Regions from separate parts of the Homo sapiens genome. Here region 2 is linked to region 1. The links come from fine-mapping of genetic effects on gene expression. A gene starts in region 1. The other region holds a variant in brackets. All regions are shown on one strand. Distances are between the middles of the regions.

Region 1 (4,395 bases):
CACTTTGGCCCCCCAAAGTGCTGGTATGTATCACAGGCATGAGCCACCACACTGGCCTGGTGTCCTGTCATTAATTTTAGAAAATTCTCAGTCATTATTCAAATATTTTCTCTCCTTTCTCTCTTCCCCTCCTGGTATTCCAGTTACGCATATATTTCACCTTCTGTAATTGTCCCATGGTTCTTGGATATTCTGTTCTTTTTCTTTTTTCATTCTTTTTTTTTCCTCTTTGTATTTCAGTTTGGGAAATTTCTATTAACATATCTTCAAGCTCACCCATTCATTTCTCAGAGTGTCTTAGTCTGAGGGGCTCACTAAAGGTAATCTTCATGTCTGTTACAATGGTTTTCAATTGCTAGGATTTCCTTTTGATTCCTTCTTACAGTTTGCATCTCTCTGCTTACATTACCCATCTGTTCTTGCATGTTGTCTACTTTTTCCAAGATGCTTCTCCTTCTGTGGGCTTCCCTAAGAACTCCTTCTTAAATAGAGTCTGTGCCTTGCAGTTTTCTCTGTTGTAATCTACTGTTATTGACCAGAGCCCCATTAGTGTGGCAGTGAGGTACAGTGGGGAGGGAAGCATTCTATAATCTTATTATTAAATACTATTTTTCTAGTGGGCTTGAGGCCTTGGACTGTGATCTTCAGAAGCACTTCTTAGCCTTTCAAAAATCCTGCCTTACTGAGACAGACAGGCTATAGAGGGACTGGAGCTGGCCAATTGCCTCTCCCCAAGGTCCAACAAGACTCTAGTAAGTAGTTTTTCTTGGAGTGCAGGTGTTTATTATGGAAAATGTGGTGCTTACTTTTCTCCTCCCCTTGCCCAAAAACCTGAGATTTTTCCCCATTCTTCACTGAGAGAATTTGATAGGGTTTCTGGAGGTAAAATTCACGAAAGTGTGGGGGCCCATCTAAGATTGGGCCCCTAGGAGTTTTTAACTCACAAGTTAGCCCACACTAAGCCTCCAGCAATTCATCAAAATTATAAAAAATAAAAGTTTTTACCAGTTTATAACTCCAGTGGCTTCTGCTTCAAGTAAGCTAATCTTGGCTGTAATTTTATGTATTTTTCTTTCTCGGGATTTTGGGGTGTCAGTTACCTTTCTATCTTCAGTTCTCTGATGGATCTAAGAAAAGTTGATTTTCAGTTTGTTGAATGATTTTGTTGTTGTGAAGATGGGAATGAAGGCTTCCGAGCTCTTTATATGCCAGAGCTAAAATGAGAATATTATCATTTTCATCCAACTCAAATAACCACAAACGTTACAAGCTCTAAGATGATATTTGCTGTTTCATAGTTAAAGTATCTTCACAGCTAGACTTGGCTTTATTATGTTGTTTATGATGTCTGACATAAATTGGATCCAGGAGAGTCCAGTCTAGATGTCACTGTGTGGCCTTGGGTGATTGAGTGTGACTGGGAGGGTGAGTTAGTTTCTGGTGAGCCAGTATCTATGATGCTGTATCTTGGTCAGCTGGGGCTGCTATAACAAAATATCATAGACTAAGTGACTTGACTAAGAGACTTTATTTTTCACAATTCTGGAGGCTGGGAAGTTAAAGTGCTGGCACATTCAGTTCTTGGTGAGGGCCCCGTTGGCTTGCAAATGGGTTACATCCTGCTGTGTCCTCACATGGCCTTTGCTTGGTGGTTGTGTAAACATGGAGACCCCTCCTTCCTCTTTTTTAATAAGTGCACTGACCCCATCATAAGGGTATCACCCTTATGACCTAATCTAAAACCAGTTACCTCCCCAAAGTCCCACCTCCTAACGTCATCACACTAGGGGTTAGGGTTTCACCATAGTAATTTTGGGAGGACATATTCAGCCTATAACATGTTGTGTCATGGTGAGACTGGCAATGCTAGATTTCGTGATTTCCTAAAAAATAAAATAAAAATAAAAAACTAAGCACCTACTATGTGCTGTTTTAGTCACTGAGAATATAACCCTGAACAGGACGGAAGCTGTGTGCCTTCTTGGAACCCTCCTTCCAGCAGGGAGAGATAAAATGGGGTGGGGGGAGGTGAGGGGCGTACCGTATATCAGAGAGCAGTAACTAGTAGGCATGAAATAAAACAGGTTCCACACGCGCACCATCAGAAAGTCACAAGTGTGCAAAGCAGACAAATCCCAATCTCCTCACTTTTCTATCGCGTAGGCCCCGCCCGCGCCCCAAGCCCCGCCCTGTCATGGTTTTCCTCTCCAGAGGGTAGCCGCTACGCCTTACCGACTGCGTTTCAGTGCTGTCCCACTGCTCCTGCACACCCCACGCCTGCGACCCTACCCACCACGGACAGGCGCTCCTGCGAGCTGGAAGCCAGTTCTCTGCGTCCTGAGCCTGGCAGCTGCATCTGAACACTCGGAGCCTGGCGATGGCTTCCAGAAACCCCTGCGCCGTGGGTCGCTTCAGTGAAGGGGCCTGTACTTCGGCGACCCAGACTCCGGGCTGAGAGGCCTCCTAATCCAACCAGGAGGACCAGGAGAGGCCCAAAAGGGGACACAGGGCAGTGACCGCCAGGCTTGGAGAGGAGCCGCTCCTGGCAAAGCCAGCGCCCTATTTCTGAACGCCGCCTCCGTTCCGGACTACACTTCCCAGGGGCTATTGCAGCGGAGGACACGCCCACTTCCGGAAAGGACCCAAAGCCGGGCGAGTGCACGTCCCGCCGGTTGCTGAGGAGAAGGGAGGTCTGGGCGGGGCAGCGGCCGAGGCTGGACTGGGGCGCGGCGGGGGCGGTGTCCTGGTTCCTGTGTGGGCGGCGGGCGTGAGCGTGCGCGTGTGGCCTGGTGGCTGTGAGTGCCCATACGTGGTGAGCGTGCGGTGCTGTGCTGAGGAGGGGCGAGCGCGCGCGGGGATGGCGGCCCGGTGTGTGACTGTCCGGTGCGTGGCCGCGAATCTGCGCCTGCGTGCATGGCCCGGCGGCGTGCGGAAGGCGGTGTGTGTTGGAATGAGTGAAGCACTTTAAGTGGCCAAGAGCAGGAAACCCGGCCGGAGGAGGCTTACCCCGTTCTCCCCTGTATCGACTGCGTAGAGCCCAGTGTGGGCAAAGTCCTAGAGCCCGGGGAAGTTGCCCGGGCGGGGCAGCCTCGGCTGAAGCATTTCCTGTCAGCCCTATCTGGAAGGGGCAGAGCCCAGGACAGGGCTCCATGTCCACAGGACGGCGAGGAGCGAAGACCATGGGGACTGAGTACACAGGTAAGAGTGACAGATGACGGATGTGGCTGCCGGAGTGGACATTGAGGTTTTGGGTGCTGTCTTTCGGGGTTCAGGTGCTGGAGGAGGATGTCCCCCGTTTCTAAGGCTAGTGGACCTGGAAGTCGAAAGATTTGGAGGGTCACCTTGGGTCAGAGTGGAGCTGGGTTTAGTTAGGGAGGGACCTTGACTTGGCCAGAGACACCTAACCAGATAACCTGACTCAGGTCCTTGGTATATCACTAAGGGCCCATGGGAGAGAACACTACCCGTAATATTACCCATTATAGCATTACTTCTGGGTACTCTGCTGCTGTTGAAGGAATAGCTCAGCATTTAGATTTTTACCCGTCAGAGCCTTGTCCCATCTATCACTGTAGGATTTGGGAAGAAGGCGAGATTCACAGCTTCACCCAGAAATGCCGAGGCATTCCAGCCTTTCTATGGCTTAATCACGTTCTAGTCAATAACGGAAGATATCCCCATTCCTTGGGCTTCTCTCCCTCCCCTCTGGCCTCCCACTCCAATAAAGAGAAAGGGGGAGGAAGGGCTATTTTTAGCCATATTGTTCTGTGCTTGTTTAGTTTCCTGCATGCTATAGTAATAGCTAATGTTTAATGAGTGTTTATTATGTGCCAGACACAGTTCTAAGACCTTTTGGGAGTATCAGCACCAAACTTCACAACATTATGAAGTAGGAACTACTTACCTCTTTTTTACAGATGAAGACACAGAAGCATAGAGAGGATAAGTAATCACTAGCAAGTGGAAGAACCGGGATTCAGATCCAGAACAGGCTGACTCCAGAGTCACTGGCTGTCATGTAGTTTCCTCAACTACTGCCTCAGGTAGGTTTCTTAGCCACTTTTGACAATTAAAGAAACTGACTCTGAAAGGGTTAAATAACTAAATAGTTCATATGCCAGAACCTCCACTGAGCAGGTTTGGGGTTTTTTTCTTAAAAAGTTTATGACTCTAAGTTCTTAGGTAAAATGGAGATGGTAATATTATATACCTCACAGTACTGTCATAAGGATTAAATGACCTCATACATGTAAAGCACTTGGTATAGTCCCTGCCATGTAATGTGTTCATTTTTATCATCATTATGATAATCCTTTGAGAAGGCAGTGGAATTTAGATGAAAGAAACTAGAATTAATTCAGATACTTTATCCTCTTCCTTCCTAATTAAGGAAAC
Region 2 (4,395 bases), 120 kb before region 1:
GTCTTTAGCAAGAAGCAGGAAAAGCTCAGAAAAATAGGTAAGAGATTAGACTAAAAGAAGGAATCTATTTTGTAGTAAAATAGATCAATATGGCTGGCATAGGGTGCCAAAGTCCAAGGTGATATAAAATAACTACTTGTATGGCAAACTGACTATAAACCTGAGTGAATGTGGCATGATAAACACAGGCTTTAGAACTATGCTATCCAATATAGTAGCCATTAGTCACCTGTAGCTACTGAGGAATTGAAATGTGGCTGGTTTGAGGTATACTATGAGTATAAAACATATGCCAGACTGTGAAAATTTACTACAAAAAAGTATAAAGTATCTCATTGTAAAAATGCTGGTTATATGATATAATATGTTGGATATATTAGGTTAAATACATATATTACTAAAATTAATTTTACCTGTTTGTATTAGGAAGTTCCTATATTGCTATAAATAAATACTTGAGTGGGTAATTTATAAACAAAAGAGGTTCAATTGGCTCCTGGTTCAGTAGGCTGTACAAGCATGGTGCTGGCACCTCCTTGGCTTCTGGGGAGGCCTCAGTGAGCTCTTACTCATGGTGAAAGACGAAGTAGGAGAAGGCACATCACATGGTGAAACAAGGAGAGAGAGTGTGGAGGAGGTGCCACATATTACAACGATCAGATTTTGTAAGAATCACTCCCTATTGCTAAGACACCACCAAGGGAATGGTGCTAAGCCATTCATGAGAAACCCACCCCCATGATCCAATCACCTCCCACAGACCCCACCTCCAACACTGAGGATGAAATTTCAACATGAGATTTGGTGAGAAATCCACCCCCATGATCCAATCACCTCCCACCAGACCCCACCTCCAACACTGAGGATTAATTTCAACATGAGATTTGGTGAGAAACCCACCCCCATGATCCAATCACCTCCCACAGACCCCACCTCCAACACTGAGGATGAAATTTCAACATGAGATTTGGTGAGAAATCCACCCCCATGATCCAATCACCTCCCACAGACCCCACCTCCAACACTGAGGATTAAATTTCAACATGAGATTTGGTGAGAAATCCACCCCCATGATCCAATCACCTCCCACAGACCCCACCTCCAACACTGAGGATTAAATTTCAACATGAGATTTGGTGAGAAACCCACCCCCATGATCCAATCACCTCCCACAGACCCCACCTCCAACACTGAGGATTAAATTTCAACATGAGATTTGGTGAGAAATCCACCCCCATGATCCAATCACCTCCCACAGACCCCACCTCCAACACTGAGGATTAAATTTCAACATGAGATTTGGTGAGAAATCCACCCCCATGATCCAATCACCTCCCACAGACCCCACCTCCAACACTGAGGATTAAATTTCAACATGAGATTTGGTGAGAAACCCACCCCCATGATCCAATCACCTCCCACAGACCCCACCTCCAACACTGAGTATTAAATTTCAACATGAGATTTGGTGAGAAATCCACCCCCATGATCCAATCACCTCCCACAGACCCCACCTCCAACACTGAGGATTAAATTTCAACATGAGATTTGGTGAGAAATCCACCCCCATGATCCAATCACCTCCCACCAGGCCCCACCTCCAACACTGAGGATTAAATTTCAACATGAGATTTGGTGAGAAATCCACCCCCATGATCCAATCACCTCCCACCAGACCCCACCTCCAACACTGAGGATTAAATTTCAACATGAGATTTGGTGAGAAATCCACCCCCATGATCCAATCACCTCCCACAGACCCCACCTCCAACACTGAGGATTAAATTTCAACATGAGATTTGGTGAGAAATCCACCCCCATGATCCAATCACCTCCCACCAGGCCCCACCTCCAACACTGAGGATTAAATTTCAACATGAGATTTGGTGAGAAATCCACCCCCATGATCCAATCACCTCCCACCAGGCCCCACCTCCAACACTGAGGATTAAATTTCAACATGAGATTTGGTGAGAAATCCACCCCCATGATCCAATCACCTCCCACCAGACCCCACCTCCAACACTGAGGATTAAATTTCAACATGAGATTTGGTGAGAAATCCACCCCCATGATCCAATCACCTCCCACCAGACCCCACCTCCAACACTGAGGATTAAATTTCAACATGAGATTTGGTGAGAAATCCACCCCCATGATCCAATCACCTCCCACAGACCCCACCTCCAACACTGAGGATTAAATTTCAACATGAGATTTGGTGAGAAATCCACCCCCATGATCCAATCACCTCCCACAGACCCCACCTCCAACACTGAGGATTAAATTTCAACATGAGATTTGGTGGGGACACAGATCCAAACCATATCACTGGTTTTAGATTTTTATTTGAATGTGGATACTAAAGATTTTTTCAGTACATATGT[G/A]GCTCACATTATATTTCTATTTCATAGGTGTGCTTTAAAGGCAGACATTACTGAATTAACTGAGGTGTTTTTCATTTAACTGCATAATCTTGTGACACACTTGTTAACTCTATTACCATAAGCATATTATCTTGAAAATATAGATAATAATCACGTACCTCACAAGGTTTTCATGAGAATTAGAAATAATGTGCGAGATTTCTGGCACATGCTATGACCTCTAATCTGCCATTCCAGTATTCAAAAAGCTGAGAACCAAAGTCTTCTTTCCTTTTTTCTTTTCCTTTTTGAATACATATTTGGAGTGAAACCCCATCTGAAATGCAATGAGGCTATTCATAGCCTCCATTTATTGCTCTTAGGAAGTCTAGTCTTTGCAGCTATCTCAATGTGTTTGATTTTGGGGTACTGCTCCAGCCCCTGCTGGGTATGTTATGCCACACATAGTATATGACCTGTTCACCTTTCTAAAATCTGCACCATTCTGAATTCTGAAACACATCTTGCTCCAAGGGTTCTAGAGAAAGCTTTGTGGACCTGCAGTTGCTTAATAACTGGTAGTAGCTACCATTATAATTATTATTAGTAGAAGTTCCAGAAAACAACCAGACAAAATAAGGAATTAACACAGGAAGATAATGGAAATGTTTATAGTGAAGCTAGCAGCATCAGCAAAACAAGAAACCCAAGATTCCTCCTATAGTCCTTCCCACCCCACATCCCATTAAGTCACATCAGTTAAGCTGCTTCTCCCTCTCACATTTTCCTAAAACTCTTAGCTTCCCTTCCTTTTCCTTTGTACCTTCCTTTGTTCCTTCCTGTGTGGAATACTAACATATCCCCTCAGCCCATCTCCCCATCTTCAATGTGGAAATCCTTAAACCACACCAGACACCAAAATTAATCCCAGGTAAATTAGTTCAATATAAAGTACAAAATCATTACAAACTAAAATAATATGAAATCTACCCCAAATTCTTTCTAACTATGGAAATAAAAAGAAAAATTATAATGTGAATGCCAATACTTCCAATCACACAAAAATGAAAAAAACTTTCATATAACCAAGTAGAAAAATAAGAGGTAAATAAAATAAAAAGACTTAGGAAAGAATGGGGAAATATTTGAAGTCAAATGTAATGTCATATGGTTAATGTATTTTCTATATGAAAGCTTACTATACAAGCAGAAAATAAAAAAGTCACTGCTAGATAAAAGGGGAAAGATCACGAAAAAACAATTCACGAGAATAAGTAAAAACAGAAAACAAATGCTAGTAAATCTACAAGAAAGATTTATGGCCTATCCAGTATGGGTAAACCAATATGGATATCCAGTCTATCCACAAGGGCTCAAGAAACAAACTGGTACTTGGGAGGCTGAGGCAGGAGGACTGCTTGAGCCCAGGAGTTTAAGGTTGCAGTGAGCCATGACTGCACCACTACACTCCAGCCTGGGTAACAGAAGACCCTGTCCCTGTCTCCTTAAAAAAAAACAAACAAACATGGTGACTCACACCTTTAATCCTAGCACTTTGGGAGGCCGAGGTGGGTGGATCACAAGGTCAGGAGTTCAAGACTATCCTGACCAACATGGTGAAACCCCATCTCTACTAAAAACACAAAAATTAGCTGGGTATGGTGATGTGTGCCTGTAATCCCGGCTACTCAGGAGGCTGGGGCAGGAGAATTGCATGAACCCAGGAGGCGGAGGTTGCAGTGAGCTGAGATGGTGCCACTGCACTCCAGCCTAGGTGACAGAGGGAGACTCTATCTCAAAAAACAAACAAAACAACTAAAAAGGAGAAAGTGGAAGAGCCAGATGGCCAAATAGAGCCCTCCAGCGATTGCCCCCTCTGCAGTAACGCCAAATTGAACAACTATCCACATAAGAAAACACCTTCATAGGAACCAAAAATTAGGTGAGCAATCAAAGTATCAAGTTTTAACATCGTATTCAAAGAAAGAGGCACTGAGGAGGGTAGAAAAGACAGTCATCATATGCCTGC

What was found. PIP is the estimated chance that this variant, and not a neighbour inherited with it, causes the effect.
Region 2: its variant is the best candidate, but not a certain one, in a credible set for the expression of ZNF470 in esophagus mucosa (GTEx, PIP 0.51).

Annotation. Positions count from the first base shown.
Region 1 is chr19:56,564,841-56,569,235 of GRCh38, forward strand. ZNF470 (zinc finger protein 470) reads left to right here and starts at 2,628. Exons shown (of 6, transcript NM_001001668.4): 1 at 2,628-3,198; 2 at 3,918-4,043. ZNF470-DT (ZNF470 divergent transcript) reads right to left here and starts at 3,181. Exons shown (of 2, transcript XM_047439806.1): 1 at 2,233-3,181. The coding sequence starts at 3,181. The coding sequence ends at 2,243. RefSeq lists enhancers at 2,308-2,357, 2,368-2,577, 2,958-3,067.
Region 2 is chr19:56,443,718-56,448,112 of GRCh38, forward strand. All of the region lies in intron 6 of ZNF667 (zinc finger protein 667), which reads right to left. Among named protein-coding and RNA genes, the nearest start is that of ZNF667, 31 kb to the right of the region's middle. The variant G/A (reference allele first, on the strand shown) is at 2,388.